Linked DNA regions of Homo sapiens. The protein of the gene in region 2 interacts with the protein of the main gene of each other region in a biochemical or structural test. Each region holds a gene or a part of one and is shown on either strand. Other genes may lie near its edges.

The links. Proteins that work in one complex are often made in the same cells at the same time.
Region 1: the proteins of PDZRN3 (region 2) and FRMPD4 interact in a test that uses a peptide from one of them, tested with the Homo sapiens proteins (one large-scale study listed by IntAct).

Annotation. Positions count from the first base shown.
Region 1 is NC_000023.11:12,722,473-12,725,023, forward strand, and holds the end of FRMPD4 (FERM and PDZ domain-containing protein 4), read left to right. Parts: 3' UTR 1-2,051; downstream 2,052-2,551. UniProt on the Homo sapiens protein: Positive regulator of dendritic spine morphogenesis and density. Required for the maintenance of excitatory synaptic transmission. Binds phosphatidylinositol 4,5-bisphosphate.
Region 2 is NC_000003.12:73,387,307-73,391,160, forward strand, and holds part of PDZRN3 (E3 ubiquitin-protein ligase PDZRN3), read right to left. Parts: intron 3,811-3,854; coding exon 3,712-3,810; intron 2,573-3,711; coding exon 2,510-2,572; intron 764-2,509; coding exon 662-763; intron 1-661. UniProt on the Homo sapiens protein: E3 ubiquitin-protein ligase. Plays an important role in regulating the surface level of MUSK on myotubes. Mediates the ubiquitination of MUSK, promoting its endocytosis and lysosomal degradation. Might contribute to terminal myogenic differentiation.

The DNA of each region.
Region 1 (2,551 bases), on a different chromosome or scaffold from region 2:
CTGGGGCTACAAATTGGTGGGGATGGATTCTACTGTGTCAGCACAAATGCTCTTCACAGTGGTTCTAGCATTTAAAAAACTTCCCGGGGAGAAGAACAGAGGGGATGATGGGCAGTTTCCTAGGTAACACCTAGAGTTATAGAATATCTCATTACATAAAATGTATGGAATTAATAATACCAAAATTAATTATTTGATGGAAAGATCTGCTTTGACTAAATGTCAAAAATCTGCAAACCAAAGACATTATCTTCCCCTCATCCCAACTCAACTACGAAACTTAAAATTCCCTTTAGAGTGATAGGACATTTAGTAAAGTATTTGCAAACTTAAAAAAAGGAACATTTAATGATCATCAAAATTAAGTACAGATTCAGTAATGTAGACCAGACCACACACCAGCACCTGTGAGTCTCATCTCAGATCACAGCTCTCAGCATAGGGCTTCATGCATCACCGCCTCTACAGAGGCTAAGGCTGCCAGTCAAATTTGGAATTATAGCGTAGTACTGGGACAAAATCTCAAATCTTGGATGTTCCAGAAAATCAGGGAGAGATGGCTACTGTAATCATGGGAGCCATGAGTAAATAGTTAAGTATTTATTAAATAAATACTTAATCTGGATTGGCTGATAAAAATATGAAATCTGAAAAAAAAAAGAAAGAAATGGAAGTGGTATATTTGACCAGTTCAAGTGAAACCAATGGAATGCAAAGAACTTTCCAGGACTGTCACATCTCTAAAAGTACCCTGCAGTCATAAAATAAAATCGATATGTATATATGTATTTCCTGGGTCATTCAGTGCTCAAGTTACATGCACTCCTACTTAGACAGGTGGCTCCTTAAGAACATGATGGGAGTACACCAGGTGCAAATATTTCTACTTTTGTAGCCTGCTGAGAAGGAGTCATAACACAGTCCACAATTGCAATCTCTCTCTAGTCAGCCATTCCACAGGGACTCAACAACAAAAGCCGCACGTGGTTATGGATGGCAGCAAAGGAAAGGAGTTTAGGTGTGTGTTATTATAAATAATGTTTAACTAAATAATAAAACATTATTTCATTACAATTATAATTATAAATATTGGTGTTTTGATATTGAGAGATATTAGTGGTGTTTACTGTGGAAAATCTTAGTAAATATCATTCTGTGTACTAAAATCCTAACCTATTAATAGGATGTGTGCCCTATGTCAGACAGTGTGCTAAGCATATTAACTATATTATCTCATTTAATCATCACAACAATCTGCTGGTTTGGACACTATTCTCTCTGGAGGCAATATGGATGAGTTCTTACGGATATGGGGTTTGGGGTCAGAAACATCTTGATTAAAATTTTGACTCTGCCATTTTCTAGCCCTTTTATGTTGGGAAAGCTACTTTTTCTAGTCTCAATTTCCTCATAATAAAATGAAAATCAATTATAAGATCGATTTCCATAGGGTTGTCATGAGTTTTGAGTAAAAATGTGTATGTAAAGTTCTTACCACAATACCTGGCAGAGAGTAAGTATTCAATTAATGTTAGCTATTATTATCATCATAATCGTTGTGTTAAATATATTGCCCAAGATAATATGTGGGGGAATGTTTGTTTTATATGCATATTGTATCCTGACTGTGTGCAGAACACATTATGTGTATTGCATATATGTAAAAGAAGTGTACAAGGAAGTGGCCATCCTTGTTCAAGTTACGTATCTAGTTAGAACAACTTCCCAGTCCATTGGAGTTCTTTGAGAAGCCTCAGGGAAGTAGCTCTGGGTCCTTCTAATCAACCTCCCATTACTGCGCCAGTAAGTTTCTGTTTCTTATAAATAAACTCTTTGCTATTCAGAAAACCTCAAGGGGCCCCCACATTCACTAAGCATGGGGCTCCTAACTGGGGTCCAGGTCCATAGAGTGTAGGAAGAACATATTAGAACAATACTTGTGCTTATTTTTATCTAGCTTTTTTATGTTTGTGTATGTTTTATAATGGCATAATAGTACAATGGTACATGTACATAATTTTAAATAAATAAATGAATGAATGAATAAATAAGCATATGCCTGGTGCATGCATGTGACAATATTGTCGCAGGTAGGGTTGCATTCACTGAAATCTGGAGAGCACTGAACTGGAGAATAAACCTTCCTTATACTCACGGTTCTTTATGTTTAGTCCCCAGTCTACTTTGCCAAGTTTATCTCCTACCATTTTTATTAATCTTTTATCACAAATCTTTCAAACAAAAGTAGACACAATCGTATGAATTCATGTGGACTCATTACCTACCGATTCATGTCTAATCTTATTTTCTGTATTTCTACCCACCTCCTCTCCCACTGTATGATTTACAAGCAAGTCCCAGACATCATAGTGCTTAGCCCATGAATATTTCAGTAAGAATATCCTGTGAGAACTTTTAAACATAACCACAATGACGTTTTTGCATTTTAAAAATTGGGAATTCCTTAATATTATCAAATAAACATTACAGAAATAAATGATGGAGAAAGTAATAATCCCCTTAAACCCAACTTCCAAAGATAACCATTGTC
Region 2 (3,854 bases):
ATCAAGAGTGCCACCTGGGTGAGTTCATGATTCCTCCTGTGGAAGGAGTTATTACAACACAGAGGTTTCTGAATCAGATTACTTGGGCCTGAACCCCTCCCTGCTTTATCACCCTCCTTCTGGGCCTTTCCTGGGTAACTTTTGAATCTCTGGGAACTTCCATCTCCTGGGAAGGCTCTCCTGTGTGTAAAGTGCTCCACGGAGGGCCTAGCACTTATTCGGTGGTCATATCAGTTTTAATTATTTATCATTCAATGTTTCTTTTAATTTGAAAGAGCAAGTTTTAATTCCCCATACTCTGCTATTGTAAATGAAACCTGCACAGATCAAGGCTGGAACATATGTCAGGCCTTGGGAAGTCAAATGTCTTGACGTGACCCCGGTTGTGTTTTCCATTCAATTCTGTTTCCTTTTCCTTCCCTATGATCCCTGCATTAATGAACGTCGTGGGCCTGCAGTATAGATGCCAGGGTGGGCATCTAACCAACCTTAAATGGCTAACTCATAAAGTGAATTCTGAATCACAGCAAGTTTGATTACATTTCCAGGGAACAAAGCACCTTCAAGTTCGCAGCCAATACTCAGGTGCTCTTTTGCAGGCCTGGGGATCTTTTGATTTTAGAAATATAGACCCAGTTTCATCTGTAGGAAGCCAATTTACCTGGAGTTCAGGCCTTGCAATCAGCAATGAAAAGTTTTTATTTTCTTCACTGGTTAGAAGAGCCACAGCCTCTTCACGGTTCTGCACCTCTATCCCATTAATCTTTTAAAAAAAAAGGGGGGGTGGGGAGAGTGGGGAGACAAATAGCATGATTAGATGGTGCAAAATCATTCTATTTTATTTCAGACCTGCATTTGTCACCCACTCACAGTTAGAACATACAACTTCCGTGTAGCTGGAAAAGAATACTGATGTTAGGAAGGAAAGGTCTTGCTCAGACCAATGCAGTTTCTCTGGTCTATAAGGGAGCCTCCATGAGTATAGTTCATGAGGTGACTGTGATGTGTGGGGTGTGAACAGAAGGGGCTGGACCTCCAGAAGACGGCACTGAGAAAAATCATAATGCTCTGCAGAGGGAACATGGAAGCAATTAGACATAATATTCAGGCAGGAGTATATGTAGACATTATTGGATAATATAGAAGAAAAAGCAGCAAACTGAGGTTAAGAAAATGGAATAGAATTATACATGGTGTTTTGTGTCCCCAGTTTGACACTTAAACTTCTTTGGGCCAGGCGGAGGGTCAAGTGGGCGTGACACTCTCACTATCACACTTGATTAACCCTCTTGCAGGATTTTTGCTTGCATGTCCTGGTGACTTTGAGCCCTGCTGGTCTGGAGGTCTTAGTCCTGGTGGAACGCCGCCTCCAGGGGACACAGCAATGGTTCCACTGAATTGGAAGTGGAGGCTTCCATATGCCTCCTTACACTAGTGAGCCAACAGGCAGCAAAAGGGGTGACTCTATTGGTTGGAGTGATTGCCCTCAATTACCAAGGAAGATGGGCTTGCTGTGACACAGTGGAGGCAGGGAGGATTGTGTCTGGAACCTAGGGGATTCCTTGGAGTACCTCTGAGTGCTTCCATTCTCAGTAGTAAAGGTTAATGGAAAACTCCAGCAATCAAAAAAAAAAAAAAAAAAAAAAAAAAGAGGCAGTATGCTGAGGACCCTGACCCTTCAGGTGTGAAGGTTTGGGTCACTTCCCTAGGGCAAGCGATCCTGAGCAGCACAGGTTCTGGCTGAAGGCTAGAGAAACCCAGAGTAGGCAGTGGAAGAAGAAAATCAAAATGACCTGTGGTGAGGTATGCAATGAGAAAAACACAGTGGATTAAGAATGAGAGGATACGGATGAGAAGAGGTAGAAAGCTAAGCCTTGTGGACACAATGAAGCCAAGAATTTCAATTCTGTGAGATTAAAGAAGGTTGTAGCCAAAAGAGACATGAATGGTCTCATTTGGACTAGACGGAGCAACAGGGCTCGAGGTCAAGTAATGACCCTTAGAAGCGATTCCAGGATGGTTAGATGTTGAGTCAGAAAATTTCTAAGACTTTTCAATCGATGCTGCTAAATTTGCCAAAAATGTTCCCCTTTTATGGACGAGCCTCTGAAATGCTTGGTCCAAAGTTAATCTTTCAGAGAAATCTAAAACGAGAATTATTTTAGTTCACAAGTTGTAAACTGTTGGCCTGACTTTGGCTCACTGATGTTTGTTTTGATCCAAACAGAATGAAACAAAATAAGGAGAACTGGCTCAAATTTTGCAAGGCCCTCTTTGGAGAGAACATGCCCCATCTAGTTTGTCCCAGTCCTCACCACTCCCTCTTGCGTCTTATGACTCAGAGATAGCCTCACAATTAGTTTAACTTGTCTGGCCTCACTACACATCTGCGTTTGTGATCCCTGTTCTTTAACCGCTTCTGCATTTTCAACCCTAGACCTATCATTAGAACCAGTTTGTTCTTTAGTGATAGGCCCATCATGAGGCCATTGTTTGGAAGTGGACTTACCTGGATAATGCGGTCTCCTTCTCGGATGCGCCCATCCTTGGCTGCAATGCTGTTAGGGTCAATCTGAAACACACATGGACCATCTCAGCGCAAACGCAGACATGCATGAAAATAAGCAACAGCACTTTCAAAACCATTTCTAAAACACAGTCATGCTCACCCCTGTGTTTCTGTTTTGCACAGAAATAAACAAGACTTAGTGTCGTGCAAGGAGAGGCAAACATGAGCTGATCTGCTTCTAAGCCCTTTCTAGGGCTGGTTCTTGGATCCCTGTGTAGCAACCCTGTTACACAGCAGTGTGTGCAGGCTCTGCTGATCTGAGGAGGCACAGCTGACTTTTGTTGCATGCATGGTAATTAAAATCAAATCAATGATGTAGAACAGGTTAAAGGATACCCTTCATTATGTGGACTAGCAACTATACCTTATTTTATACCAAATACTTGTATTAAAATTTGGAAAATAACTTTAAAATTGAAATATAATTGGGACAAGGGGGACTGGTAAGGGGAGGGATGTCCCCAAATGCAGAAAGGATGGGTTAACTTAAGCTTGGTGAATGACATACAACCAAAGAGATAATTATTAAGTCTAGTAGATCATTCTGTAGCGACAAATTTTATTTCCTGACAAAATTGGGTTTCTGTGTTTGCAAGGATGGGTGTGCACTGTAAAGTTTCCATACTGAAATCAGTTGATTTGTATTATCTTCTCAAGGAAGATCAAAACAGCGTGCATCTATGTAGTTTGATAAGTACATACAAGTCACATTTAACTTATATGAAGTCAACTATATATACTCCACCAAGAGAAAAAAAAATGTGTGTGTGTGTGTGTGTGAGAGAGAGAGAGAGAGAGGCTTTAAAAAGTGTAAGTGATTCCATCCACCATTCCACTCAATGAACACGAGTTGGGAAATGTGAATCTGCTCTTCCCTTGGGGCTAAACACACAAAACCATGTAAACGGCTCCATTTTATGGCTGATTTGCAGGCTTCTCAAGGGTAATTTTGCCATAAGTACTGGCATTAGAACTTAACCTCCGTGGAAAGATGCAGCGCCATGGAGTGTGATGAGGGGGACAGAATAATTTGTGTCTTTCCAAAGAGATCTTGATGAGGTGGGTTAGGGTTGGTGAACATGAAAAAAAAAACCCTTTTGGTCTTGATACGATAGTTAGAAAAACAAAATCAGCCTTTGTACCTCACTGATATAAATCCCAATGTCGTCTTCATCGTCCGTCCGGTAGCACACAGTGAGGCCCAGCTTGTCCTGGCTGTTCATTCTGTAGAGGTCCACTTCCTAGACAAAGAAAGGCATTCCCAGTGAGACTCCAGCAGGCAATG